Linked DNA regions of Homo sapiens: all the other regions are linked to region 5. The links come from fine-mapping of genetic effects on gene expression. A gene starts in region 5. Each other region holds a variant in brackets. All regions are shown on one strand. Distances are between the middles of the regions. Region 1 overlaps VSTM1 (V-set and transmembrane domain containing 1). Region 2 overlaps PRPF31 (pre-mRNA processing factor 31). Region 3 overlaps TARM1 (T cell-interacting, activating receptor on myeloid cells 1). Region 4 overlaps TMC4 (transmembrane channel like 4). Region 5 holds the start of OSCAR (osteoclast associated Ig-like receptor). Region 6 overlaps VSTM1 (V-set and transmembrane domain containing 1). Region 7 overlaps VSTM1 (V-set and transmembrane domain containing 1).

Region 1 (4,065 bases), 43 kb after region 5:
TCAGGAGTTTGAGACCAGCCTGGGCAACATGGTGAAACCCCATCTCTACAACAACAACAACAAAAATTAGCTGGGCACGATGGCACACACCTGTAGTCCCAGCTACTCTGGAGCCTGAGGTACGAGTATCACTTGAACCCAGGGGGTGGAGGAGGTTGCAGTGAGCTGAGACTGCACCACTGCACTCCAGCCTGGGTGACACAGCGAGACTCTGTCTCAAAACAAAACAAAACACTGCAATCACAGAAAATACCAGAAAAAAGCATAGGTGAATGTTGAACAATTTCTAGATGGTGAAAGGATTACTCATGAAAGCAATTCAATACATCAGAAAAGGTTGCTGGGCCGGGGGCAGTGGCTCACGCCTGTAATCCCAGCACTTTGGGAGGCCGAGGCGTGTGGATCACCTGAGGTCAGGAGTTCAAGACCAGCCTGGCCAACATGGTGAGACCCTGTCTCTACTAAAAATGCAAAAATTAGCCAGGTGTGGTGGCGGGTGCCTGTAGTCCCAGCTACTCGGGAGGCTGAGGCAGGAAAATTGCTTGAACCTGGGAGGCGGAGGTTGCAGTGAACTGAGATCATGTCATTGCACTCCAGCCTGTGCAACAGAGCAAGACTACATTTCAAAAAAAAAAAAAAAAAAAGAAAGAAGAAGTTGCTGGAATTTTCTCCATACACGTAGCTTCTGAATGACAAACAATGGAACAAAAGTAAGAGGTAAGTCTGGGGAGATATCTGCCAAAAATATATACATATATGTAATACATATATTTAATATATATATTATATTTATATATGTATTATATGTAATATGTGTACATATACTTAATACATTTATTATATATAATACATATATACATTATATATATATATATATCTCAGACCTATAAAGAGCTAGTCATACGTTCTCTGCTGGATTTGTACTCAAGGACAAGCACATAATTTTTCTCTCATTGAGATTTCTCTTCCAGGGCTGTGTCTGGGCTACGAAGATGAGAAAAAGAATGGTGAGTTTTCTCCTACTTAAACTTTTATTCCTGCATCCCACGCTTCATGACCTTTTCCTTTAATCGTCTGAATTCTAGACTCAAATTAACTCTGAATTGTTTCCAGAGAAACCGCCCAAGCCCTCCCTCCACGCCTGGCCCAGCTCGGTGGTTGAAGCCGAGAGCAATGTGACCCTGAAGTGTCAGGCTCATTCCCAGAATGTGACATTTGTGCTGCGCAAGGTGAACGACTCTGGGTACAAGCAGGAACAGAGCTCGGCAGAAAACGAAGCTGAATTCCCCTTCACGGACCTGAAGCCTAAGGATGCTGGGAGGTACTTTTGTGCCTACAAGACAACAGCCTCCCATGAGTGGTCAGAAAGCAGTGAACACTTGCAGCTGGTGGTCACAGGTGAGAAGGGCAGATGTACTCTTTGATGCACACATTTCTTTGGTTTGGCTTTGCTTTTTTTTTTTTAAGACAGAGTCTTGCTGTGTCTCCCAGGCTGGAGTGCAGTGGCACGATCTCGGCTCACTGCAACTTCTGCCTCCTGGGTTCAAGCAATTCTCCCTCCTCAGCCTCCCGAGTAGCTGGGACTACAGGCGCCCGCCACCACGCCCAGCTAATTGTTTGTGTTTTTAGTAGAGATGGGGTTTCGCCATGTTAGCCAGGATGGTCTCCATCTCCTGACCTTGTGATCCACCTGCCTCCGCCTCCCAAAGTGCTGGGATTACAGGCATGAGCCACCGCGCCCGGCCTAATTTTTGTATTTTTAATAAAGATGAGGTTGTACCATATTGGTGAGGTTGATCTCAAACTCCTGACCTCAAGTGATCCATCTGCCTCGGCCTCCCAAAGGGCTGGGATTATAAACGTGAACCTCCACACCCAGCCTTTTTTTTTTTTTTGAGAGGGAGTCTTGCTCTGTTGCCCAGGCTGGAGTACAGTGGCATGATCTCAGCTCACTGCAACCCCCGCCTCCTGGGTTCATGCAATTCACCTGCCTCAGCCTCCCGAGTAGCTGGAACTACAGGGGTGCGCCACCACACCTGGCTAATTTTTGTATTTTAGTAGAGACAGGGTTTTACCATGTTGGCCAGGCTGATCTCGAACTGCTGACCTCAAGTGATCTGCCCACCTCAGCCTCCCAAAGTGCTGAGATTACAGGAGTGAGCCACTGCGCTCGGCTGCTTTTTTTTTTTTTGACAGAATCTCGCTCTGTCACCCAGGCAGGAGTGCAGTGGCATGAACACAATTCACTGCAGCCTCGACCTCCCAGGCTCAAG[C/T]GATTTTCCCACATCAGCCTCCCAAGTAGCTGGGAGTACAGGCAAGCACCACCATGCCTGGCTAATTTTTAAATTACTTGTTGAGACAGGATCTATGTTGCCCAGGCTGGTCTTGAACTCCTGAGCTCAGGTGATCCTCCTGCCTTGGCCTCCCAAAGTGCTGGGATTACAGGCGTGAGTCACCAAAGCCTGCCTGATGCACGTATTTCTTTTCCTGTCGTGGGACATGGCTGGGGAAGAAGGAATCTAGGAGACAAAAAGATAGATGCAGGCCAGGCACGGCGCGGTGGCTCATGCCTGTAATCCCAGCACTTTGGGAGGCAGAGGTGGGCAGATCACTTGAGGTCGGGAGTTCGAGACCAGCCTGGCCAACATGGTGAAACCTCACCTCTACTTAAAATACAAAAATTAGCTGGGCGTGGTGGCAGGCGCCTGTAATCCCAGCTACTAGGGAGGCTGAGGCAGGAAGAGAATCTCTTGAGCCCAGAAGGCAGAGGTTGTAATGAGCTGAGATTGTGCCACTGCACTGCAGCCTGGATGAAAGAGCAAGACTCCGTCTAAAAAAAAAAAAGAAGAAGAAGGATAGATGCAACACCTTCAATGTGGAAATGGGAACCGAATGTGGAGCAAGATTCTCATCAGAGATTCTGAGAGGGTCCCAATGATGTGGATGTGGGAGGGTGGTGTAGAATATGGTCAGTTAATAGAAAATTGGGGTATGGTAAGACTGACAGACCAAGTGATGATTGCCATGGAAAAGATGGTCTGTTACAGTTCCCAAGAGGAGGAGGAAGGCTATACTGGGGGGAGTATGTGGGGAAGCACCAGGGTCAATGAGGGGCAGAGGGAGGAGGAAGAACTGTGGACCAGAGCTTTGATTGTATTTTGTGGGGAGAACAAGATTAGAGTTGGCCAGGTGTGGTGGTTCATGCCTGTAATCCTAGCACTTTGGGAGGCCTAGGAGGGTGGATCACCTGAGGTCAGGAGTTTGACATCAGCCTGGGTAACATGGCGAAACTCCATCTCTACAAAAATACAATAATTACCTGGGTGTGGTGGTGTGCACCTGTGCTTTCAGCTACTCGGGAGGCTGAGGCACGAGAATTGCTTGAACCCCAGAGGCAGAGGCTGCGGTGAGCCAAGATCGTGCCACTGCACTCAAGCCTGGGTGATAGAATGAGAACCTGTCTCAAAAAAAAAAAAAAAAAAAAAAAAAGAAAAGAAAAGAAAAGAAAGAAAGAAAAGAAAAACAAAAAAAGAATTGGCTTTGGGGTGTAGAGGCTGTCCCTGGTTGTCTAGTTCTTGGACCTGGGGTGATTAGGAGAGGACAACATTGACCTTGAGTGTGAGAGCCCCATAATTAAGGTGGTTGAGAGTATGGGCTCTGGATCTATTGGCTTGCATTTGAGGGACATCCTTGAGGACAAGTTGTTTACTGGCTCTAGAAATTAACTAACCCTGCGAGGGGAGGTCCCACCAAGGGCAGCAAGGCCCCAAGATGTTAAAGCATCAAATGCAGAAGATGAAAGACATGGTTAATACGGAGAGATGGATGAGATAGTCCCCAAGTGCAGTAGAAAATGGAAAAGCCCTGGCCCTTCTCTTTACCTCCATTGCCTTGTCCTCTTCAGGATCACTCCCAGAACCTTTGCTCTCAGTCAATGTAGACCCTGGGATGACTCCAGGTCTCAGGACACTTCGATGTCTCACTCCATACAATGGAACCGAATGTATTGTAATTGCTCTGTTGAAAATGGGGATCCCAGAACCATTACAAGTCAGGCAAGTAAGA
Region 2 (4,053 bases), 27 kb before region 5:
AGCTGTCTACGTCCTCTGCATACCTCGTCACCACACCCTCCACAACAGCCCCATGAGGAGACTCATCCTGGCCTTCTTCACAGGGGCAGAGGGCAAGGGGCCTTGCCAAGGTCTCAGGGCTGGGGACAGAGCCGGCCCAGGGGAGGTACCTGGAGTGGGGTGAAGGCCACGCTGGAGGCCGTGCCCGAGGAGCGGTCGCGGATGGTGGACTTCCCGCCATATACGACGCTCTGCTTCTGCAGGGTCCGCTGTGGGGAGGACAGGGAGGCTGCGATCTGGGCTCCCCCCACCTTGTGTCCCTCGGTCCCCAGCCCCACCTGGGTCTGGCCCATACCTGCAGCGTCTTGGAGATCCTGGCCTTGGTGGCCTCGTTTACCTGTGTCTGCCGCACACGCCCACTGCCCGACTTGCCCAGGTGGCCCAGGCTGAATCCCAGGTCCTCCTGGTAGGCGTCCTCCTCGATCTAGGGGGGAGAGGAGGCGCCCTGCAGTTCAGCGACCAGGCCCTGCCCTCCAGCCACCGAGGCACCCCCTCCACCAGCCCGAAGCCCAGCGGTCACCAGCCGGCCGGTCCCACGGGCACCTGCTCCGGTACCCACTCGGCCCGGCTGAGGCCTGGGGGCCCACACACGCGGGGGATGCTGGGGAGCCTGAGAGGGGCCCGGTCCCAGCACTGCTCTGTGAGCTCAGAGTTGGGAGGCCATTCCTTCCTTACTCGTGTGGGTCGGGGGATGTCAGGAACCAGAACAGGTTTAATAGGATGAGGTGGCCTCTGAGTTCGGTCCTGCAGGACCAAGGGGATGACGCTGGGATAACAGAGGAGACTGGCGGGGCCCAGGGACGGGGCGGCCGTGCAGCAGGGCACTAAGGAGCCTCTGGGCAGGGAGGAACCGGCCAAGGAGCCCGGGGCGATGGGAAGCCGCGGGGGCTCTAAGCAGCGGAGACACAGGCTCCAAGGGTCGCGAGGGTCGCTTTGGGGCTGAACGGATGGAAACGAGAATAGAGGCCGGGGGGGGGGAGGCTGGGGCAGCGCCCTAGACATGAGCCAGGGCCACAGGACGAGAGGAGGGGCGGTGGCAGGAGGCAGAGGGCGGTGGCGGCTGGCTGGCTGTGGGGTTGAGGAGGGCGCTCTGGGAGTCTGACCTCTCCGAAGCTCATACGGTTGGCCTGCTTCCGGATCTCCGTCAGCCCCAGCCGCTCCTTCATCTTGCGGTACCTGGGGACGGGTGGGTGGGCGGCGCCAGGGAGTCGGCTGGGAGGAGGACGCCGGCTTCTCCCCTCCATGACCCCCATGCCTACCGGACCCCCAGGGCCCCTCACCTGCGGCCGCCTCGCTTCTTCCGCTGTCCATCCAGGGGCGCAGGCAGCGGCTTCACCTGCTTCACAGGCGGCGGCTCCTGCCACTTGTCGAATTTGCGCTCGATCTCATCCTTCAGTTCGTAGCCCACCTGGGGAGGGCGAGGGGGAGGTCCTGCAGCTGCTCGCGTGGGCTGCCCACCCAGGCCTCCTCTGAG[C/T]GGGCCCCCCGAGTATCCACGTGCCTTAGTTAAATCAGCACCTAATGCTGCCTCACCGCCACCCCCTTTCTTTTTCTTCTTGGTGTTGACTTAGCACCGCTAGACGCAGGACAGAGTTCACCTGTTGACTGTCTCTTTGACCCGGCCCCAACAAGAATGTCCACGCCACGGGGCAGGGGTCCTGTCTGTGCTACTCACAGCTGCACCCCCACACCCAGACCAGGGGTGAGATGGGGAGAGGGAAAGGAGAAGGGGACACGGAACACCTGAACGCTGTGCCAGGCCGGGTGCTTGGCAAACGACAGTTCACAAGACAGAAAACGTCTCCTCTCCCGAGTACATCTACCAAGGAAGACAGAAGGTAACTGAATAATTACTTGAATAACATCCCCTGTTGCAGCGGGGACAGATCCTGGTGTGGAAGGCAAATTACGCCCCCACCAACACACACATGCCCAAAGAGGCCCATGTTCTAATTCCCAGAATCACAGGGCAAAAGGGACGTGAAGAGGTTAAGAAGGATTTTAAGGATTGTGAGCTGGGAAGACTATCCTGGACCATCTGAGTAGGCTCAGTATAGCCACAGGGGCCCTTAAAATAGAAGAGGGGAACAAAAACAGAGGCGGAGATATGAAGACAGAAGCAGAGTCAGAGAGAGGTCTGAGGGTGCTATGTGGCTGGCTCCGCAGACAGAGGGAGGGCCACGAGCTAAGGGGTGCCAGTGACCCCTAGAAGCTGGAAAAGACCAGGGAATGGATTATCCCTTGAATCCCCCAGAAGGAACGCTCCAGGATGACACCCTGACTTCAGCCCAGTGAAACTCATTTTGGACTTCTGACCTACAGGACCACAGATAATAAACCTGTACTGTTTTTTGTTTTTGTTTTTAGATGGAGTCTCGCTATGTCACCCAAGCTGGAGTGCAATGATGCAATCTCAGTTCACTGCAACCTCCGTCTCCCAGGTTCAAGCAATTCTCCTGCCTCAGCCTCCTGAGTAACTGGGATTACAGGTGCGTGCCACCACACCCGGCTAATTTTGGTAGAGATGGGGTTTCACCATGTTGGCCAGGCTGGTCTCAAACTCCTGACCTTGTGACCCGCCCACCCTGGCCTCCCAAAGTGCTGGGATTACAGGCGTGAGCTACTGCACCCGGCCACACCTGCACTGTTTTAAGCCAGTAGGTTCATGCTACCTTCCAACAGCAGACCTAGGAAACCCCACTGGGGAAGGGGGTGCCTGACCCCAGGGAGGGTGGGCAGAAGCACTGCCTCCGCCTTGGTAGGACAGTGCTCGCTGGGGTGGGCTCCCTGCTGAGGGTCTCCCTGCAGAGACACCCCAGGCCCAGAGGAAAAGACGCCCGGCCGCCCCTCACCTTTCCCTCCTCACCTTCCCTTCTGTGCTCTCGTGGAAACTGTCCACACGGGCTGCCAGTGTGCACTTGGCGGCCACCAGCCGGGCCGCTTTCCGCCGCAGATCCTGGAGCAACGGAAAACGGGGGTGGAATCTGTGTGAGACAGACAGACAGAGGTAACAGCAAAGCAACCGCGCGCGCTCCTCCTCTGGCTCTACCTGGGGTCCTGGAAGGGGGCTTTCCACCCTTGGGCTCTAGAGGTGTGTGCTCTCAGCTCCTACTTCACAGGAAGAGGGGATGAGGGCAGGGCACAGAGCCATGTCCCAGCTGATAAGTGGCCATCAGGTAAGGATGACAGTAAGGCACGCTGACAACGAGGACGGTGGTGACTGTGGAGACGCCGGGGGGAGTGCACTCGGCCTGGATGCCAGCCCCATGCTAAGCACGCCCCTCGGATCATCTCATCAAATATTCAAATATCGGGCTGGTGTGATCATTGCACCCCCTTTTCAGATGTGGAAACCAAGGCTTCAAGTCATGTGGCCAGGGAGACAGCCAGCAGGTGATGGAGCCAGGGTTCCAATCCAAACTGCAAACAGAGCCCAGCTGTCAGCCACAGTGAAGCGATGGCCAGCCCTGGCCTCCCTTACAGGCCTGTGGTGTCTACGGCCTGTGCCTGGACCGATGTGAGATGGCCAAATGAAGAGGCAGAGGCCTGGGTGACAAGACATCAGGCTCCCTGGGGCAGGTTTAACCCATATGCCCAGGGCTGTGAGGCGGTGGCGATGGCAGGGGTGCAGTGAGGCAGCTGGAGCCCCGAGCCCCAGGCCCACCCGTCCTGGGTTCTATCGCCCACTCTCTCTCCTCCCAGGATGGGGTGACCTGCCAGCCTCCCTGGGTGTGTTCCAGTAGCAGTGCCTGACCTAAAGGGTCGCAGAAAAGACCACAAAAAAAACCCCACACAGGGCTGGGGGGTGGGGCCAGGAAGTGCCTGCCCAGCCTTGGCCATCAGTGCTATTGTTCTCCCCATCCCTGGGGGAGGCCAGGCAGGGCACAGGGCCGTGAGCCTGAGGTAACTCGCCACAGTTGGACAGAGCAGGGTCTGGACCCAGGCCTGTCTGTCCCAGAACCTGTCTTGCTTGTTTTTTTTTTTTTTTGAGACAGAGTCTCACTCTGTCACCCAGGC
Region 3 (4,065 bases), 29 kb after region 5:
CCAGGTATGATGGCATGCACCTGTAGACCCAGCTACTTGGGAGGCTGAGGCAGGAGAATTGCTTGAACATGGGAGGCGGAGGTTGCAGTGAGCCAAGATCTTGCCACTGCACTCCAGCCTGGGCAATAGAGTGAGACTCTGTCTCAAAAACAAAAAACAAAAAACAAAAACAAAAACAACAAAACAACAAAAAAACCTCCCTTTCACAATTTCCACTCCTTTGCCTTTTTTTTTTTTTTTTTTTTTTTTGAAATGGAGTCTCACTCTGTTGCCAGGATGGAGTGCAATGGCGCGATCTTCGCTCACTGCAACCTCCACCTTCCAGGTTCAAGTGATTCTCCTGCCTCAGCCTCCCAGGTAGCTAGGATTACAGGCCTGCACCACCCATCCGGCTAATTTTTCTATTTTTAGTAGCGATGAAGGTTTCACCGTGTTGACCAGGCTGGTCTTGAACTCCTGACCTCAGGTGATCTGCCTGCCTCGGCCTCCCAAAGTGCTGGGATTACAGGTGTGAGCCACCGTGCCCGGCCCTCCTTTGCCTTTTTGTTATACTACATCCTTGGAAAATTTCTAGGCTGTTTTTGAAAATTATGAATCTACCAGCACCAGATTCCTTCTACCAGTCTTTGCATCTCTTAGCGTTTTGGTTTTTTGTTTTGTTTTGTTTCATTTTGTTTTTGAGACAGAGTCTCGCTCTGTTGCCCAGGGTGGAGTGCAGTGGTGCGATCTCAGCTCACTGCAACCTCTGCCTCCCGAGTTTAAGCAATTCTCCTGCCTCAGCCACTTGAGTAGCTGGGATTACATGTGCCCGCCACCACGCCTGGCTAATTTTTGTATTTTTAGTAGAGATGGGGTTCTGACCATGTTGACCAGGCTGGTCTTGAACCCCTGGCCTCAGGTGATCCGCTCACCTCGGCCTCCCAAAGGGCTGGGATTGCAGGTGTGAACCACTGTGCATGGCGTGTTTTGTTTTTTCTTGGTGTTAGTGATTTCACTCTCAATAATTCTTTCTCAGTCATGTGTGGTGGCTCAGGCCTGTAATCCCAGCACTTTGGGAGGCTGAGGCTGGAGAATTGCTTGAGCCCAGGAGTTTGAGACCAGCCTGGGCAACATAGTGAGACCCAGTTTCAAATTTAAAAAAAAAATTATCTCATCCTCAGAACATGGTGTTTGCACAGCCTCCTGCTTCTATGCCGTGGATGCGAAGTCTACCCATGTCTTTTATTGACTGCTAGAATTCTTCTGAAAGTATCTTGTTTCCTGCCTTACTGGGTGCTAGCACTCTGCTTCCTCAGCTCTGTAAATTATTTTTCATCTGTTGTAACTGCTGTAATGAGTTACATTACAGCTCTTGCCGGGTGCCTGGATGAAGCCCATTCATCAAGACAGAGGAATTGCAAAAAAGAGTTTAATACACATTGAGCCAGGTAAGTGGGAGACCAGAGTTTTTTTGTTTGTTTGTTTGTTTGAGACGGAGTCTTGCTCTGTTGCCCAGGCTGGAGTGCAGTGGCGCGATCTCGGCTCAATGAAACCTCTGCCTCCCAGGTTCAAACGATTCTTCTGCCTCAGCCTCCCGAGTAGCTGGGACTATATGTGTGCCACCCTGCCTGGCTAATTTTTGTATTTTTAGTAGAGATGGGGTTTTACCATATTGGCCAGGCTGGTCTCGAACTCCTGACCTCGTGATCTGCCCGCTTGGGCCTCCCAAAGTGCTGGGATTACAGGCATGAGCCACTGCACCTGGCCAATCAGAGTTTTATTATTACTCAAATCAGCCTCCCTGAAAATCTGGAGGCTAGGGTTTTGTTTGTTTGTTTGTTTTCTTTGAGATGGAGTCTCACTCTGTCGCCCAAGCTGGAGTGTAGTGGCACAATCTGAGCTCACTGCAGCCTCCACCCCCCAACCCCAGGCCCAGGTCAAGTAATTCTCCTGCCTCAGCCTCCTGAGTAGCTGGGATTACAGGCACCCGCCACCACACCCGGCTAATTTTTTTGTATTTTTAGTAGACATGGGGTTTCGCCATGTTGCCCAGGCTGCTCTCGAACTCCTGGCCTCAAGCAATCCTCCCACTTTAGCCTCCCACAGTGCTGGGATTACAGG[C/T]GTGAGCTACTGTGCCCGGCCTCAACTCAAACTTTCTCAGGTGCACTGCTGCACAGCAGTGTGTGCTGCGAGGATGCTGATCCAGCCACGGAATTCGGGGCTCTGTAGAGCTCCTTCCGTCTCATGTGCTGCCCCAAGACTATTCCTTAACATAAGGATGCGGGAGGAGAAAAGGCAATGTGGGAAGGTGGAAATGGGATAAAGAGCAAATAAACGAAGGAAGAGAGCTAAGGTGGAGTGAATATCAAGGAAGGAAGATAAAGGAACTCCCATTACAACTCATTAGGATTGCATATCTTGGCCGGGCGCGGTGGCTCAGGCCTGTAATCCCAGCACCTTGGGAGGCCGAGGCAGGCGAATCACTTGAGGCCAGGAGTTCGAAACCAGTTTGGCCAACATGGCGAAAACCCATCTCTATTAAAAATACAAAAATTAGCCGGGTGTGGTGGTAGGTGCCTGTAATCCTAGCTATTCGGGAGGCTGAGGCAGGAGAATCGCTTGAACCCAGGAGGTGGAGGTTGCAGTGAACCGAGACTGCGTCGCTGCACTCCAGCCTGAGCAACAGAGTGAGACGTCGTCTCAAAAACAACAACAAAGATTCCATCTTTTGTTTTCAGGGATTAAAACTTTAAAGAGCTCAATTATGGCCAGGCATGGTGGTTTATGCCTATAATCCCAACACTTTGGGAGGCCAAGGCGGGTGGATCACCTGAGGTCAGGAGTTCGAGACCAGCCTGACCAACATGGAGAAACCCCGTCTCTACTAAAAATACAAAATTAGCCGGGTGTGGTGGCACATGCTCATAATCTCAGCTGCTTGGGAGGCTGAGACAGGAGAATCACTTGAACCCGGGAGGCAGAGGTTGTAGTGAGCTGAGATTGTGCCATTACACTCCAGTCTGGGCAACAAGAGCAAAACTTGATCTCAAGAAAAAAAAAAAGTTCAATTAAAACTTTAAAGTACAGTGGACTACTGGCTAGAAAACATTAAGTGGGTGGCCGGGCGCGGTGGCTCACACCTGTAATCCCAGCACTTTGGGAGGCTGAGGTGGGCGGGTCACCTGAGGTCGGGAGTTCAAGACCAGCCTGGCCAACATGGCGAAACCCCGTCTCTACTAAAAATATAAAATTAGCCGGGCATGGTGGCACATGCCTGTAATCCCAGCTACTTGGGAGGCTGAGGCAGGGAGGCTTGAACCTGGGAGGCAGAGGTTGTGGTGAGCTGAGATTACACCACTGCACTCCAGCCTGGTCAACAAGAGTAAAACTCCGTCTCAAAAAAAAAAACCAAAAAACCGAAAACATTAAGTGGGTGATGATAGTCAGATTTGGTGGGGCCATTTGAGAAGGAGGGATACCCTCTGAGGGTCAGTGCTGAGCCCCTTCTCTCTTTCAGTTCCCCCAGGTACCACATCGAGCAACTACTCCCTGGGTAACTTCGTACGACTGGGTCTGGCTGCCGTAATTGTGGTTATCATGGGAGCTTTCCTGGTGGAGGCCTGGTACAGCCGGAATGTGTCTCCAGGTGAATCAGAGGCCTTCAAACCAGAGTGACTCCATCTTGAACCGGGGCTGGGTAAACTGAGGCTGCAACCTGCTGGACTGCATTCCCAGGGGGTTGAGGCTTTCTAAGTCACAGGATGAGACAGGTCACAACATACAGGTCACAAAGACCCAAAGACACAAAGATGCAACAAAGAAGCCAGCCAAAACCTGCCAAATCCAAGATGGCAACAAAAGTGACTTCTGGTCGTCCTCACTGCACATTATTTGCTAATTATAATGCATTTGCATGCTAAAAGACACTCCCACCGCCACCAAGACAGCTTACAGATGCCATGGCAACTTCCAGAAGCTAAACGAGGGAGGGACTCTCAGTTCCAGGGAAATCCCCTCCCCTTTCCTGGAAAACTCATGAACAGTCCACCCCTTGTTTAGCATACGATCAAGAAATAACCACAAAAA
Region 4 (4,055 bases), 66 kb before region 5:
AGAAAAGAAAAGAAAAGAAAAGAAAAGAAAAGAAAAGAAAAGAAAAGAAAAGAAAAGAAAAGAAAAGAAAAGAAAAGAAAAGAAAAGAAAAGAAAGAAAAGAAAAGAAAGAAAGAAAGGAAGGCGCGGCTGGACCCCAGTCCAGGGGTAGGAGGGGCTGGTCCTGCTCCCGGGAAGGAACCTGAGCCTCTCTCTGCTGCCCCCTGCAGGCCAGTTTGGCGCCGGCACGGAGTCCTACTTCTCCCTGCTGCGCTTCCTGCTCCTTCTTAACGTGCTGGCCTCTGTGCTCATGGCCTGCATGACGCTGCTGCCCACCTGGTTGGGAGGCGCTCCCCCAGGCCCTCCCGGCCCCGACATCTCCTCGCCCTGCGGCTCCTATAACCCCCACTCCCAGGGCCTGGTCACCTTTGCCACCCAGCTCTTCAACTTGCTCTCGGGTGAGGTAGGTGCCTGGGTCCCTGGGGGATTCCCCGCCCACCTGTGACCCCAGTGCCTTCAATGACACGAACCTCAAACCCTGACCCCAGACCCTGACTGTGCAGCTCCAGGAGCCCCGCCTCCTCCCACAGTGGCCCCTGCGCCGCCTTCCCCCCACAGGGTTACCTGGAATGGTCCCCTCTCTTCTATGGCTTCTACCCGCCCCGCCCACGCCTGGCGGTCACCTACCTGTGCTGGGCCTTTGCCGTTGGCCTCATCTGCCTCCTGCTCATCCTGCATCGGTCAGTGGCACCTGCACCCCTGACCCCTGACGGGACGGGTTGGGGTGGGGAAGCAAGTGGTGGTGGCAGAAACCCCCTCCCCAAGAATCCTCAGTCTTTTTTTTTTTGAGACGGAGTTTTGCTCTTATTGCCCAGGCTAGAGTGTAGTGGCGCAATCTCGGCTCACTGCAACCTCCGCCTTCCGGTTTCAAGCGATTCTCCTGCCTCAGCCTCCCAAGTTGCTGGGATTACAGGCGCCCGCCACCACGCCCAGCTAACTTTTTTGTATTTTTAGTAGAGATGGGGTTTCACCATGTTGGTCAGGCTGGTCTTGAACTGCTGACCTCGTGATCCACCCGCCTCGGCCTCCCACAGTGCTGGGATTACAGGCGTGAGCCACCGCGCCCGGCCCCAGAATCCTCGGTCTTGCTGTGTAACCCTTTATTCTGTGTGAGTTAAAATCAAGGTTTTGGGCCAGGAGCGGTGGCCCAGGAGGTGGAGCTTGCAGTGAGCCGAGTTTGCGCCACTGCACTCCAGCCTGGGCGACAGAGAGAAACTCCATCTAAAAAAAAAAAAAAGATCAAGGTTTTGGGATTTGTTTTTGTTTTTCATTTGTTTTGTTTGTTTGTTTTTGAGACAGAGTCTTACTCTGTCGCCCAGGCTGGAGTGCAATGGCACGATCTTGGCTCACTGCAACCTCCACCTCCCGGGTTCAAGCGATTCTACTGCCTCACCCTCCCAAGTAGCTGGGTTTACAGGCTCCGGCCACCACGCCCAGCTAATTTTTTGTATTTTTAGTAGAGACGGGGTATCGCCATGTTGGCCAGGCTGGTCTCGAACTCCTGATCTCAGGTGATCCACCTGCCTCGGCCTCCCAAAGTGCTGGGATTACAGGTGTGAGCCACCGCACCCAGTCTGTTTTGTT[T/C]TTTGAGACAGGGTCTCACTCTGTCACCCGGCTAGCGTGCAGTGGTGCAATCATAGCTCACCGGAAGCCTGGGCCTCCGGAACTCAACTGATCCGCCTACCTCAGCCTCGGGAGCAGCTGGGACCACAGGGGTGCACCACCATGTCTTGCTAAAAATTTTTTTTTAATGTTATAGAGACAGGGTCTTGCTATGTTGCCCAGGCTGCGCTCAAACTCCTAGGCTCAAGAGATCTGCTCACCTCAGCCTCCCAAGGTGCTGGAATTACAGGCATGAGCCAATGTGCCTGGCCAAAAGTCAACTTTTTTTTTTTTTTGAGACGGAGTCTCGCTCTGTCACCCAGGCTAGAGTGCAGTAGTGCGATCTCAGCTCACTGCAACCTCCGCCGCCCGGGTTCAAGCAATTTTCCTGCCTCAACCTCCCAAGTAGCTGGGATTACAGGCATGTGCCACCATGCCCGGCTAATTTTGTATTTTTAGTAGAAATGGGGTTTCACCATGTTTGTCAGGCTGGTCTCGAACTCCTGACCTCAGGTGATGCACCCGCCTCGGTCTCCCAAAGTGCTGGGATTACAGGCGTGAGCCACCACGCCCGGCAAAGAGCCTCGATTTTAAGAGAAGGGAAAAGCCCTGGAATAGGTCTTAAACAGGGGAATACGGTCTGAGTTGCATCAAAAGAAGGTCCCACTGGCTCAAGAACTGAGAATGGATTATATGCGGGCACAAGTGGAAGCAAGGAGACCATGTGAGGGCCCTCTGTGGTTGTTCACATGAGAGATGATGGGGGCCGGGGCCAGGGCAGTGAAGGTGCACATGGTCTCTTTGTCCAGTTCTGTTTCTGCCCCTGCTGGGGTTCTCTATCTCCTTCCTGGGTCTTTGCCCCCCTCTCTTGAGTCTCTTTACCTGCCCGTCTTCTCTGGGTCTTTTTTTTTTTTTTTTTTTTTTTGGAGGCGACCTCCACCTCCTGGGTTCAAGTGATCCTCCCACCTCAGCCTCCCAAGTAGTTGGGATTACAGGCATGCACCACCACGCCTGGCTAATTTTTGTATTTTTAGTAGAGACGGGGTTTCACCACATTGGCCAGGCTGGTCTCAAACTCCTGACCTCAGGTGATCCTCCCCCCTCGGCCTCCCAAAGTGCTGGGATTACAGGCGTGAGCCATGGCGCCTGGCCTGCCCCCTCTCTTGAGTCTTTACCTGCCATCTTCTCTGGGTCTCTGTCTTCTTCTCGGCTCTTCCCGCCGCAGCTCCCTTCTCTGTGTGCCTGTACTTCTTATGGGTCTTTGACCCCCATCTTTTGTAGATGTAGTTTCCCCTTTCTCACTGTCTTTTTCTCCCTTTCTCCGAATCTCCCTCTGGGGCCTCTGTCCCTCCTCCACATCTCTGTCTTCCTCAGGGCCTCTGTTTCTCTCACTCTGGGTTTCTGCCCCCTTCGCTCCGAGGCTCTGTCCCTGTCTCCTAGGTTTCTGCCTCTCTTTGGGGTGCCTGCACCCCAGAACTGTCTCTGAATCTCCCTTGGACTTTGCCTTCAATGACTGTGTCTCCGCCTCTTTGACTCTTTCCCCATCTGGTCTGGTGGGAACTCGCCTAGTACCCAAGGCCTTAGGGTTCATCTTCCCCATTTGTCCCAATATGAGGGGTCTCCCCATAACCCCCGTTCCTGGCTGTCCTTTCACTTCCCGTCTCCCGGGTCTCCCCTCTCAGCTCGGTGTCTGGGCTGAAGCAGACACTGCTGGCGGAGTCCGAGGCTCTGACCAGCTACAGCCACCGGGTGTTCTCGGCCTGGGACTTCGGTCTCTGCGGGGACGTCCACGTGCGGCTGCGCCAGCGCATCATCTTGTACGAATTAAAGGTGCGATTAGGGAGCGGGGTCTGCAACTGGGTAGGGACCAGACAGGACCGGGCTGAGATAACGCACAGGGCCTAACTCGGTGATGGGGCCTCCGGAGAGATGCTAAGCAGCTCCTTCTCCAAGAAAGGCAGGTCCTGGGGAATGAGAAGGTTGAGAGGAGGCCGAGATAGGGCTGCCCGAGCTCCAAGCGTGTAGGAAAAGGATGCGCCAGGGCTGGGATCGGTGGCTAATGCTTGTAACCCCAGCACTTTGGGAGACCGAGACAGGTGGATCGCTTCAGTCTAGGAGTTCGAGACCAGCCTGGGCAACATAGGGAGGCTCCCTCTCTACCAAAAAAAAAAAAAAAAAGTTTGTTTTTTTTTAAGTAAGCACAAGAAGCGGGCGGGGCCTAAGGCAATTTGGTTCAAAGTTAAGTGATGGGAGCGGCCAGCAGGGCGTCTTGATACAGCTGAACTGGAACTTCAGGCCAGGAATAAAGCGCAGGGCCACCTGGGGGCGGAGCCTCTGATGGGCAGGGCTGACCAGGGGCGGGTCTTGGGATGCTGGGCGGAGCCTCAGGGGCGGGGCCTGGGGTGCTGAGATTGA
Region 5 (4,065 bases):
CGCCCAGAGGTTCCCAGAACTACCCGAGCCCCGTGCGCCACCGGCACCTGCACTTACTCGCAGCCATCTTTGTCTCCGCGGCGGCGACAGCGGCGAGGACGCGGAGCACCCTGGGAGTTGTGGTCCCTATGCGCGAGAACCCGCTCCCAGGGCTGCGCGTGCGCCCTGGAGCACAAGTAGAGGCGAAAGCAAGGACGCGGAGCACTCTGGGAGTTGTGGTCCCTCTGTGCGACGGCCCGCTTTCGGAGCCTGCGCGTGCGCACTCGCGCAGAACAAAGATGGAGCCGTGGAGGTAAAGGAAGTGGTGTCAGGAGCAAGCGCAAGCCTGACTTTGCGGACCTGCGTGGAATCTCCTTAGTCTCAGCCTAGAAGTCGCTCCGGAGTGACTAGTCCTCCTGCTGCGACCCACCTAAGGCGGAACAAAATAGTCCCCATTTTATAGTTTATGTATGAAAGCCCATTTTACAGACGAAGAAACTGAGCCCGGGAGAAGGTGAATGACTAACCTGTCCTTCGAGGTCTCAGCTCAACATCGGCTCGTCCTGGAAGCGCTAGGTCTCATCCCAGATGGGTTAGGAGCTTTCTGCGGGCTCTCACAGTGCTCTGTTACCGCCATTATAGCTCAGATCACTTAAGAAACTGACCTGGTCTGGGCCAGGCGCGGTGGCTCACGCCTGTAATCCCAGCACTTTGGGAGGCCGAGGCGGGCGGATCACGAGGTCAGGAGATCTAGACCATCCTGGCTAACATGGTGAAACCCTGTCTCTACTTAAAAATACAACACAAATTAGCCGGGCGTGGTGGTGGGCGCCCGTAGTCCCAGCTACTGGGGAGGCTAAGGCAGGAGAATGGCGTGAACCCGGGAGGCGGAGCTTGCAGTGAGCCGAGATCACACCACTGCACTCCAGCCTGGGCGACAGAGCGAGACTCCGTCTCAAAAAAAAAGAAACTGACCTGGTCTTGGTCTTTCAGTCGGACTGGTAGCTGCTGCTTGAGAGCAGTAACGGAGTCTGAGTTCCCTCTGTGCCTGCCAACATGGCACAGCGAGGGTCTGGCACGTAATAGGTTCTAATTTTTTTTTTTTTCTTCTGAGATTGAGTCTAGCTCTGTCGCCCAGGCTGGAGTGCAATGGCGCGATCTCGGCTCACAGCAACCTCCGACTCCCGAGTTCAAGCGATTCTCCTGCCTCAGCCTCCTGAATAGCTGGGATTACAGGCGCGCGCCTCCACAGCCGGCTAATTTTTCTTTTTTAGGAGAGACGGGGGTTTCTCCATGTTGGTCAGGCTGGTCTCGAACTTCCCGACCTCAGGTGATCCACCCGCCTTGGCCTCCCAAAGTGCTGGGATTACAGGCGTGAACAACCGCGCCCGGCCTAGAGGGGCTAATTTTTATCTATCTATCTATCTAACACAGTATCACACCAAGAGCCTGGCACATAATAGGTGCTAATTTTTCTCTGTCAACCAATCTATCAATCGATCAATTAATCACAGCAAGGGCCTGGCACATAATTGGTGTTAATTTTTATCTATCCATCAATCAATCACAGCAAGGGCCTGGCACTTAACAGGTGCTAATTTTTATCTATCTATCTATCTATCTATCTATCTATCTATCCATCCATCCATCTATCTATCTTTCAATCACAGCAAGGGCCTGGCACATAATAGGTGCAAATTTTTATCTATCTGTCAATCAATGACAGCAAGAGTCTGGCACATAATAGGTTCTTATTTTTAAAACAGACAGATATCTTTCTATCTGTCTATCTATATTTAAAGACATGGTCTCACTCTATCACCCAGGCTGGAGTGCAGTGGCACAATTTATTTATTTATTTTTTAGACAGGGTCTCGCTCTGTTGCCCAGGCTGCTCTTGAACTCTTGGGCTCAAGCGATCCTCCTGCCTCCACCTCCTGACTAGTATTTGTTTCTAGAGTTAAATAAATGAACACCACAGGTTATGACTGAACCCCCTGCTAATTTTTCCACAGTGCCATAGGGCTATGACACAGTCACCCACAGGCCCCCACCTCGATACTCTCTTCCGTAAATGAGGATCTGGGTCTGGTTTTCTGATGTTGCCTCATTTCCTGGGAGGGGAGAGGGTGCGACCAAGCCCTGGCTCCAGCTCTAGCGGGTATCTGCCCACCATGGCCCTGGTGCTGATCCTCCAGCTGCTGACCCTCTGTGAGTCACCCCTTTCTTCTCCCTGGGTTCCTGGCTGGGGTTGGGGGCAGAGAGAGAGGCAATGGAGACCCAGACACCCTGCAGGGGGACCAGGCAGCAGGTTTGGGATTCTAGGTTCAAATAAAGAACAGGGCTGGGGCCCAGACCCCTGGGTCCTAAAGCAAGAGAACACAGATTCCCGAAAGAGGAAGGAGGTGGGGACAGGTATCTCTGGTTCTTGAGGCAGGAAGAGGTCAGGAGACAGGGAGGACTCCCAGATTCTTATATGGGAGGGGGATGGAAGCCAGGACTCCTGATTCCCTGGGAAAAGGGGGCTGGGAACAGGGCTCTTAGCTCCTGAGAGAAGAGGGAAATGGGGACCCAGATTCCTGAACTCGTGAGAGGAGAAACTCTACGATCATTGTTCCCTGGAAAGGTGGAGTTCAAGGGCCTGAACTCTTGGTTGCCCAGGCCAGAGGGGTCTGCGTTCAGACTTCTTCGGTAGGTGGGCAATGGATGTCCAAATTTCTGCCTACTGAGACAGGAGGAGGGAGGGATAAGATTCTCATTTCCCAGAGGAGATAGGAGCTGGGAACTCAGATTCCTGGGTTACCAATGAGATGGGGCTGGCCACAAAGGGTTTTGAAAAGAACTCGCTGTTGGGCGCAGCGGCTCATGCCTGTGGGAGCCGAGGCCCAGCACTTTGGGAGGCCGAGGCGGGTGGATCACCTGAGGACAGGAGTTCAAGACCAGCCTGACCAACATGGCGAAACCCCTCTCTACTAAAAATACAAAGATTAGCCTGGTGTGGTGGCGGGCACTTGTAGTCCCAGCTACTACGGAGGCTGAGGCAGGAGAATCACTTGAACCTGGGAGGCAGAGGTTGCAGTGAGCTGAGATCACACCACTACACTCCAGCCTGGGCGACAGAGTGAGACTCTGCCTCAGACAAAAAAAAAAAAAGGAAAAAGAAACTAGTCCCTCAACCTCCTACAGGGCCTCTGTGTCACACAGACATCACTCCGTCTGGTGAGTAGCCACCCCATCCACTCTCCTTTTGTTGCTGACACCCCTTTTCCAATTACTCAGATTTTATTTTGGTGCCCAATCCCATCCCAGATATCCTTATTTTCCTCCCTCCCTCCATTCCTTCCTTCTTTTCTCATTCCCCTTAGTGGCCATTATAGGTGAGTACTGAAGACCAGGAACTTCTGAGGCAGAGGCCTAAGCTAGGACCTCAGTTTCACCATCGTATTCATTTATATGTGACCATATGACCTAGAACAAGTCACAGCTTGCTAAGACTCCATTTCCTTCTCTGTAAAATGGGCCGCTGTGAGATCTCATCAAATCACATGTGCAAAACCCTGAGCCTGGCACAGTACAGGGCTTAAGAAATAGGATCTTGGGCTGGGCGCAATGGCCAACGTCTGTAATCCCAGCACTTTGGGAGGCAGAGGCGGGCGGATCACAAGGTCAGATCGAGATCATCCTGGCTAATGTGGTGAAACCCCGTCTCTACTAAAAAAAAAAAAAAAAAAAAAAAATTAGCCGGGTGTGGTGGGACGCACCTGTAATCCCAGCTACTCAGGAGGCTGAGGCAAGAGAATCGCTTGAACCCAGGAGGCAGAGGTTGCAGTAAGCTGAGATCGCGCCACTGCACTCCAGCCTGGGTGACAGTGCAAGACTCCACTTCAAAAACAAACAAACAAACAAAAAAAACTCTTTTGGAGATATTTCAGTGTCGCTATAGCTATCTCTACCTATTTATTTTATTTATTTATTTATTTATTTTGAGACCAGTTTCTCTCTGTCGCCCAGGCCGGAGTGCAGTGGTGCAATCTCGGCTCACTGCAACCACCTCCTGGGTTCAAGGGATTCTCCTGCCTCAGCCTC
Region 6 (4,065 bases), 54 kb after region 5:
AGTGGCACAATCTCAGCTCACTGCAACCTCCGCCTCCCAGGTTTAAGTGATTCTTTTGCCTTAACCTCCTGAGTAGCTGGACCTACAGGCGCCCGTCACCATGCCTAGCTAATTTGTGTATTTTTAGTAGAGAGGGGGTTTCACCATGTTGGCTAGGCTGGTCTCGAACTCCTGACCTCAGGTGATCCACACGCCTCAGCTTCCCAAAGTGCTGGGATTACAGACTTGAGCTACTGTGCCTGGCCCCGTTCTTCTTTTGATGGACATTTGTGTTGTCTGCACCTCTTGGCTAAAGCGAGTAATGGTGCTGGAACACTGTGGTAGGAGTATCTGTTTGTCTCCGCGCTGTAAATTATCTTGAGTATGTACCTAGAAGTGGATTTGCTAGGACATATGGTGACTATTATGTTCAACTTTTTGAGGAACTGCCAAATCATTTTCCATTGTGGCTGTATCATGTTATATTCCTTCCAGTAATATATGTGGGTTCCAATATCTCCACATCCTTGTCAACACTTACTTTTCTTTTTTTAAATTATAGCCATCCCAGTGGGTATTATATAATTTCTTAAAATGTACTTTTTGAGTTCAAATTTGTATCATCACAATTCTAAACAGAATAAAATATCTTTGCCGGGCGCAGTGGCTCACGTCTGTAATACCAGGACTTTGGGAAGATGAGGCAGGAGGATCACTTGAGCCCAGGGGTTCAAGACCAGCCTGGACAACTTGGTAAGATCCCATCTCTACAAAAAATACAAAAATTAGCCAGGCGTGGTGGTGTGCACCTGTAGTCCCAGCTACTTGGGAGGCTCAGGCAGAAAGATCGTTTGCGCCCAGGAGGTTGAGGCTTCAGTGAACTGTGATTGCGCCACAGCACTCCAGCCTGGGTGACAGAGCGAGACCCTGTTTCAGTAAATAAATAAAATAAAAGTAAAATATCTGTAAGCACAGGTATGATGTCCCCAGCCTGTATTTATATGCCTAAAACACACTAGAAAACGACTCTATGTTCAATCGCAATGTAGAGAATGAAGATGAATTTTATCACACAAGACTTGACTTTCTTTCTGGTGCCTGTGCCTCCATTTATGCCCCGTGTCAGGCTGTATCTTGTTGCTCACGCTGACTTTAGTAGCGTAGCAAGTTATGATTTATTCTGGCAATTTGCAAATACTGATGCAACATTTGGCCAGGATCTGTGGACATCTCAGGGTGAACCCAGTTCAGCTGATTATGGGGTCATATGAAGATGAGAATTTTGCAATAATGTACTTCTCATTTCTAGTGAATTGCTGTGTGAAAGATACCGTAGGCTGGAAAAGGGGAGAACAGAAAGGACAAGGCAAGGCTGCTGTTTCTCTGCTTCCATCTGGGGAAACTGAGAGTCCAGGAGCAGCTGTTCCTGCCCTGTTTTCATAAGTCCTTGGAGATGCACTGATAGAATTGTTGCTTATGGCCAGGCATGGTGGCTTATGTAATCCCAGCACTTTGGGAGGCCAAAGTGGGCAGAACACTTGAGCTCTGGAGTTTGAGACCAGCCTAACCAACATGGTGAAACCTCATCTCTACTAGAAATATAAAAAATTAGCGGGGTGAGGTGGCGGGTGCTTGTAATCCCAGCTCCTTGGGAGGCTGAGGCAGGAGAATTGCTTGAACCCCAGAGGGGGAGGTTCCAAAGCCGAGATTGTACCACTGCACTCCAGCCTGGGAGACAGAGTGAGACTGTCTCAAAAAAAAAAAAATTGTTGCTTTTGAGGGGTTCTCTGATTCAGCTCCACCAGAAGCAGGCTCTTAGACAGCATTAGTGTGA[A/G]AGTGACGTTTTATTTTATTTATTATTTATTTAGTTTTGAGACAGAGTTTCGCTCTTGTTGCCCAGGCTGGAGTGCAATGGCGTGATCTTGGCTCACTGCAACCTCCGCCTACCAGGTTCAAGAGATTCTCCTGCCTCAGCCTCCCAAATAGCTGGGATTACAGGCATGCACCACCACACCCAGCTAATATTCTATTTTTAGTAGAGACGGGGTTTCTCCATGTTGGTCAGGCTGGTCTCGAACTCCTGACCTCAGGTGCTCTGCCTGCCTCGACCTCCCAAAGTGCTGGGATTACAGGTGTGAGCCACCACGCCTGGCTTGAAAATTACATTTTAGGGAGTGGGGAAGAAGGGCTGGGAGGAAAATAGATTAAACAAGTGTGGGATATCTGTGTCCCTCAGATGGTATCTTTGGCTCCATCCTGCAGAAAGCAGTGGAGACAGAGAAGGTCGAAGACCAGAGGCTAGGGAGCTGGGGTCCCCACAGCCGTCAGTGGCAGTTTGTCCCGGGCATGTAAATTCCAAGGCATTTGGAGTTCTCCCAGGCAGTCCCCCAAAGAAGAGATACAAATGTTCACTTTGGAAAGGGAAAGAAGCCACGATCTAGAATGCATAAAAATGGGAAAGGGATCTGGGGAACATGGGTTGAGGAACATTGACAGAATCTATTACAGAGAGAGATGGGTGTAGGTGGAATATTGGGTGAAAAAAAATCATCATTATACCTACAATCCCATTATCCGACACAATGAGTCAGTTTCTAGACTGAGCGCTTTAAAGCCAGGATTTTTCATCATTACCTAACTCTTCAAGTTAGATATTATTAGCTCTCTGCCCCCTCCTTATATTTAACCAAAAAATAACGTATTCCAGAAAGGGAAGGGAACATTTACAAAGTCAGGAGGTAGGAGACCCAGTACTAGAACTCAAATATGTCTTGTTTCAAACTCCCCACTCCTTTTGCTGCTCCCTGATGATCAGCTCAGAAAGAACCTTATTTCAGGGAGGGGGATAGATAGATAATTAGATGTGATAGATAATAGGCAAGTAGGCAGATAAATAGATAACTAGATATGATAGATTAGATAGATACATAGATGATAGGTAGATAAGTAGCTAGATACGATGGACAGATTAGATAGATAGACAGATGATAGGTAAGTAGGTAGATAGATAACTAGATACAACAGGTTAGATAAGTAAGTAGATAGATAACTAGATATGATAGATTAGATAGATAAATAGACGATAGGTAAGTAGGTAGATAGATACAGATAGATTAGCTAGCTAGCTAGATGATAGATAACTAGATATAATAGATAAGATAGATGATTAGATAGACAGATAATTAGATATGATTGATAGATACATTAGATAGATGATAGATTAGATAGATAGATGATAGGTAACTAGGTAGCTAGATAAAGCTAGCTAGATAGATAGATAGATATACAGATACACAGATAGATACATAGATACCTAGATAGGTGATAGAGTTGCAAGATAGAAAAATTAGATAAGTAGGTGGATAGATAGATAGATAACTAGATAGAATAGATTAAATAGATAATAGTAGGTGAATAGACAGATACATACAGATGATAGATGATAGATGATAGATAACTGGTTATGATTGATAGATACATTAGATAGATGATAGATTTGGTAACTAGATGATAGGTAAGTCGGTAGATAGATAAGTGATAATTAGATATGATAGGATGGATAGATTAGACAGACAGCAGGTAAGCAGGTGGATAGACAGATAAAGATAGATACATAGATGCCTAGATAAGTGATAGATTAACAAGATAGAAAAATTAGACAGACAGATAGTTAATTACATATGATAGGATAGATAGATTGGATAGGTGATAGGCAAGTAGGTAGATAGATAAATCATAATTAGATAGGACGGATAGATTGGATAGATGATAGGTAAGTAGGTACAGAGACAGATAAAGATAGATAGGTAGATAGATAATAGATACCTAGACAGATGGTAGATAGATTAGCGAGATAGATAAATTAGATAGGTAATTCTCTATATATAGATATGTAGAAATGCCAATGCAAACATAGCGAACCAAGTAGGGGAAGCGTCTGGATGGGAGACCCTCTGTTGGTGCAGAGGACCAGGCGTGTGAAGCATCTCAGACTTGGCTCTGTAATGTGACCACAGATCATTGCACACCTAGGAAAAATTCTCAGACTCAAAGCACACTAACAAAGATAGCGGGGGTCTTGGTGAA
Region 7 (4,065 bases), 48 kb after region 5:
CCATATCATGGGAAATCCCTGGAGAGACTTTACAGTCATCAGTGTAGTGTAGAAGTAGCCGTGGGTCCACACCAATGACTTAGCCTGGGCTTGGGGCATGATGAGTAACTGAATACTTAATGTTTCACCTCTGATTTACCCTCTTTCTGAGGCTCTTGATCAATGATACTCCAACAAGGTGCTCATCACTTTGATATTGATTTCAAATTGTATTCCCCATAACTCGTTCTTGTAGTCTTAAGAATTTCTGCACCCACACTTTAGCCCTAAAAGCCTCGCGATTATTTGCCATTTCCCAATTATGTTCTCTGGCATATCATCTACTGTTTCCTGATTTCTTCACCTCTATCGCAGCTGTACCATTACATCACAAGACAGGCTATAGTATCAATTTCCAGTGGTTGATTTTCCAGGTCAGCCTTCCATATACAATCTGTTTGCTGCTTTGCAAATCACTTTATTATACTACTTTTTACTTTTTTATTATACTACTTTTTACTTATTACAAAATGGGCATATAAATGCTTCCATTACAAAAAAAAATTAATGCAAAATACCTGGCACAAAAATAGCTGCCCATTCACCCTACAAATTCAGATACTTTGGTAGATCCTGAGCATATTGTAGGAACTGAGACAGACCAGGTCTCTGGCCAACAGGAGCTCACATTCTTCTTTGGAAGAAAGAAAGAAATAAGAGCAAGCTATCAGAGTAATTAAAAAACACATTATAGATGGAGAATAACTGTGAGAGGCATTGTATTAGTGATCTACAGCTGCATAACAAATTACCACTAATTTAGCAGCCTGAAACACCTATTTATTATCTCACAGTTGATGTGGGTCAGGAGTCCAGGCACAGCTTAGCTGAGTCCTCTGCTTTGGGTCTCATAAGGATGCAATCAAGGTGTCAACAAGGGCTGTGTTCTCATCTGGCTCATCTGGAGGCTTGACTGGGGAAGGGTCCATTTCTCCACTCCTGTGGTTGATAGCAATATCTGGTTCTTTATAGCTGTAGGATTCATGCTAGAATGATTCTGCAGCACTTGCAAGAAGAGAGATTGAGAGAGAGAGAAGAAAGAGAGAGCAAATGCCCTAGCAAACAGAGTTTTATGTAATGTAACATAATCAAGAGCATAACATCCCATCACCTTTGCCATAGCTATTGGTGAGAAGAAAGTCACAGATCTCCACACTCAAGGTGAGGGGATTAGACAAAGGCATGAACACCAGGAAGCAGGGCTCCTGAGTCTCCTGAGTGCCCCCTTAGGGTCTATCTGCCACAAGCATGAAGGATGAGAATGACCCAACCACACCGATATCTGGAGAACAGCCCTCCAGGGAGAGAGAGCAGCAAAAGCAAAGTCTCAGAAGTGTGAGTGTTCCTGGAATGATTGAGACACAGAAAGGAGGACATAAGGCAGGGCCTAGAGCATCTAGGATCTTGTGGGTGTTTGAACTGGTCCTAGAGTCTGCTTTGAAAGAACAGGAACCCACTGATGAAGTTGAGCTGGAGGATGGCATGATTTTATTTATATGCTGGAAGGGTCACTGGCTGCTTTTTTTTTTTTTTTTTTTTTTGAGACAGGGTCCCACTCGGTTGCCCAGGCTGGAGTGCAGTGGTGCAATCACAGCTCACTGCAGCCTTGACCTCCCAGGCCCAGGTAATCCTCCCACCTCAGCCTCCCAAGCATCTGAGATTACAGGCACAGGCCATCATGCCCGGCCTCTGGCTGCTTTTGGAAAATAAGGGACTAGATGTAGTAAGAGTTGGTGCGTTTCAGGCAATACGACTTTTTAAATTTAAAAATATCAAATTGACAAATGAAGATTGTATATATTCAAGGTATACAATCTGATGATTTGATCCACCTGTACATTGTGTAATGATTATCACAGTCAAATTAATTAGCACATCCATTGCCACCATGCTGAGCACCTGAACTTCTTCATCTTAGAACTGGAAACTTATACCCTTTCATCAACATCTCCGCATATATCATGCTAAACAAAATAAGCCAGACTCAGAAAGACAAATTCTGCAGGATCTCACTCATATGTGTAGTCTAAAAAAGCCAAACTCACAGAAGCAACTGGTGGTTGCCAGGGACTGGTGAGTAGGTGATATTTCATTTCATTTTTATTTTTATTTTTATTTTTTTTTTGAGACGGAGTCTGGCTCTGTCCCTCAGGCTGGAGTGCAGTGGCGCGATCTCGGCTCACTGCAAGCTCCGCCTCCCGGGTTCACGCCATTCTCCTGCCTCAGCCTCCCGAGTAGCTGGGACTACAGGGGCCCGCCACCACGCTCGGCTAACTTTTTGTATTTTTAGTAGAGACGGGGTTTCACC[A/G]TGTTAGCCAGGATGGTCTCGATCTCCTGACCTTGTGATCTGCCCGCCTCGGCCTCCCAAAGTGCTGGGATTACAGGCGTGAGCCACTGCGCCCGGCCAAGTAGGTGATATTTTAACTTAGACTAAATGGTGCCACTGTGGAGATAGAAATATAGGCCAGGTGCAGTGGCTCATGCCTGGAATCCCAGTATTCTGAGTGGCCAAGGCAGGTTGATCACTTGAGGCCAGGAGTTTGAGACCAGCCTGGCCAACATGGTGAAACCCTGTCTCTACTAAAAATACAAAAATTAGCAGGGTGTGGTGGCGGGCGCCTGTAGTCCCAGCTACTTGGAAGGCTGAGGCAGGAGAATCTCTTGAACCCGGGAGGCGGAGGTTGCAGTGAGCTGAGATCATGCCACTGCACTCCAGCTTGGGTAACAGTGCAAGACTCAAAAAAAATAAAAGAAAGAAAGAATTTGGGTGAATGGTGTTCTTTGTCAAGATAGAGAAGACTGGCAAGGAATCAAACTGGAGGGGGCGTTAGCAGGGTCATTCATAAATATTTTTGTTATTAAAAATACTATCAAACTCCAGGACTATTAAGAAGAGTAATCTGAGGCTCTGTCCATGCTCTGAGGACCCAGGGAGCATCTAGGGAATGGAGAAGCCATTCTCTTTTCTGCTTCCCAAAGAAGAACAGGATGTCTATAAGTAGGACGTGAGGACTCCTGTCCCCAAGGTTCCTGTATGATTAGTGTAATTCCTTTTCTTCCCTCCTATTTTCTAGATAAACACGATGAACTTGAAGCTCCCTCAATGAAAACAGGTAAGATAATTAGAAAGGAGATGTTTTTCCCAATGAGATCTGCTTCATGATCACCTTTGCTTAAAGTGCACAAGGAGAACTTTATTTATTTGTTTGTTTGTTTGTTTGTTTGTTTTTTGAGATAGAGTCTCGCTTTGTCACCAAGGCTGGAGTACAGTGGCGCAATCTCAGCTCACTGCAACCTTCGCCTCCCGGATTCAAGCAATTTTCCTGCCTCAGCCTCCCGAATAGCTGGGACTACAGGCACGCACCACCACACCCAGCTAATTTTTGTATTTTTAGTAGAGACGGGGTTTCACCATGTTGGCCAGGCTGGTCTCGAACTCCTGACCTTGTGATCTGCCCGCCTCAGCCTCCCAAAGTGCTGGGATTACAGGCGTGAGCCACCGCACACGGCCTATTTATTTTTTTGAGAAAGAGTCTTGTTCTGTCCCCCAGGGTGGCGTGAAGTGGCACAATCTCAGCTCACTGCAACCTCCACTTCCTGGGTTCTGGGTTCAAGCAATTCTCCTGCCTCGGCCTCCCGAATAGCTGGGATTACAGGCACCCACCACCATATCCAGCTCAGTTTTGTTTTTTGTTTTTTGTTTTTAGTAGAGATGGGGTTTCACCATGTTGGCCAGGCTGGTATCAAACTCCTGACCTCAAGCAATTCCCCCGCCTCGGCCTCTCAAAGTGTTGGGATTACAGGCATGAGCCACCGCACCCGGCCTAGAAGAACTTTAAAGCCCATTTTCTCAATGTTATTGGGGAAACTGCTGTGTTTTGGGGGGTGGAGGATGAGGGGAGATAACCTCTAAAGTGCTTCCGGGTTCTGAAGAAGCTGGTGTGTAAAACAGCACAGAGTGCGTTGTTTGCCATATGACATGATGAAAAACTAGGGTGGGATTTGGGGAATAATGGGGGTGAATTT

Evidence for each region.
Region 1: its variant is fine-mapped to the expression of OSCAR in whole blood (TOPMed, PIP above 0.99).
Region 2: its variant is fine-mapped to the expression of OSCAR in whole blood (INTERVAL, PIP above 0.99).
Region 3: its variant is fine-mapped to the expression of OSCAR in whole blood (TOPMed, PIP above 0.99).
Region 4: its variant is fine-mapped to the expression of OSCAR in spleen (GTEx, PIP 0.97).
Region 6: its variant is fine-mapped to the expression of OSCAR in whole blood (TOPMed, PIP above 0.99).
Region 7: its variant is fine-mapped to the expression of OSCAR in testis (GTEx, PIP 0.98).

What each region holds. Positions count from the first base shown.
Region 1 is chr19:54,055,639-54,059,703 of GRCh38, reverse strand. VSTM1 (V-set and transmembrane domain containing 1) reads left to right here. Exons shown (of 9, transcript NM_198481.4): 2 at 972-1,007; 3 at 1,114-1,398. Among named protein-coding and RNA genes, the nearest start is that of VSTM1, 6.2 kb to the left of the region's middle. The variant C/T (reference allele first, on the strand shown) is at 2,274.
Region 2 is chr19:54,125,467-54,129,519 of GRCh38, reverse strand. It overlaps PRPF31 (pre-mRNA processing factor 31), which reads right to left. Exons shown (of 14, transcript NM_015629.4): 9 at 2,903-2,992; 10 at 1,320-1,447; 11 at 1,143-1,215; 12 at 335-463; 13 at 150-248. Among named protein-coding and RNA genes, the nearest start is that of PRPF31-AS1, 4.9 kb to the right of the region's middle. The variant C/T (reference allele first, on the strand shown) is at 1,514.
Region 3 is chr19:54,069,592-54,073,656 of GRCh38, reverse strand. It overlaps TARM1 (T cell-interacting, activating receptor on myeloid cells 1), which reads left to right. Exons shown (of 5, transcript NM_001135686.3): 5 at 3,497-3,762. The coding sequence ends at 3,654. Among named protein-coding and RNA genes, the nearest start is that of VSTM1, 7.7 kb to the right of the region's middle. The variant C/T (reference allele first, on the strand shown) is at 2,101.
Region 4 is chr19:54,164,834-54,168,888 of GRCh38, reverse strand. It overlaps TMC4 (transmembrane channel like 4), which reads left to right. Exons shown (of 15, transcript NM_144686.4): 4 at 209-441; 5 at 597-718; 6 at 3,323-3,470. Among named protein-coding and RNA genes, the nearest start is that of TMC4, 6.3 kb to the left of the region's middle. The variant T/C (reference allele first, on the strand shown) is at 1,623.
Region 5 is chr19:54,098,881-54,102,945 of GRCh38, reverse strand. It overlaps OSCAR (osteoclast associated Ig-like receptor), which reads left to right and starts at 2,143. Exons shown (of 5, transcript NM_133169.6): 1 at 2,143-2,190; 2 at 3,166-3,198. The coding sequence starts at 2,154. It overlaps NDUFA3 (NADH:ubiquinone oxidoreductase subunit A3), which reads right to left and starts at 91. Exons shown (of 4, transcript NM_004542.4): 1 at 58-91. The coding sequence starts at 67. RefSeq lists an enhancer at 1-302.
Region 6 is chr19:54,044,982-54,049,046 of GRCh38, reverse strand. All of the region lies in intron 4 of VSTM1 (V-set and transmembrane domain containing 1), which reads left to right. Among named protein-coding and RNA genes, the nearest start is that of VSTM1, 17 kb to the left of the region's middle. The variant A/G (reference allele first, on the strand shown) is at 1,814.
Region 7 is chr19:54,050,497-54,054,561 of GRCh38, reverse strand. VSTM1 (V-set and transmembrane domain containing 1) reads left to right here. Exons shown (of 9, transcript NM_198481.4): 4 at 3,114-3,152. Among named protein-coding and RNA genes, the nearest start is that of VSTM1, 11 kb to the left of the region's middle. The variant A/G (reference allele first, on the strand shown) is at 2,348.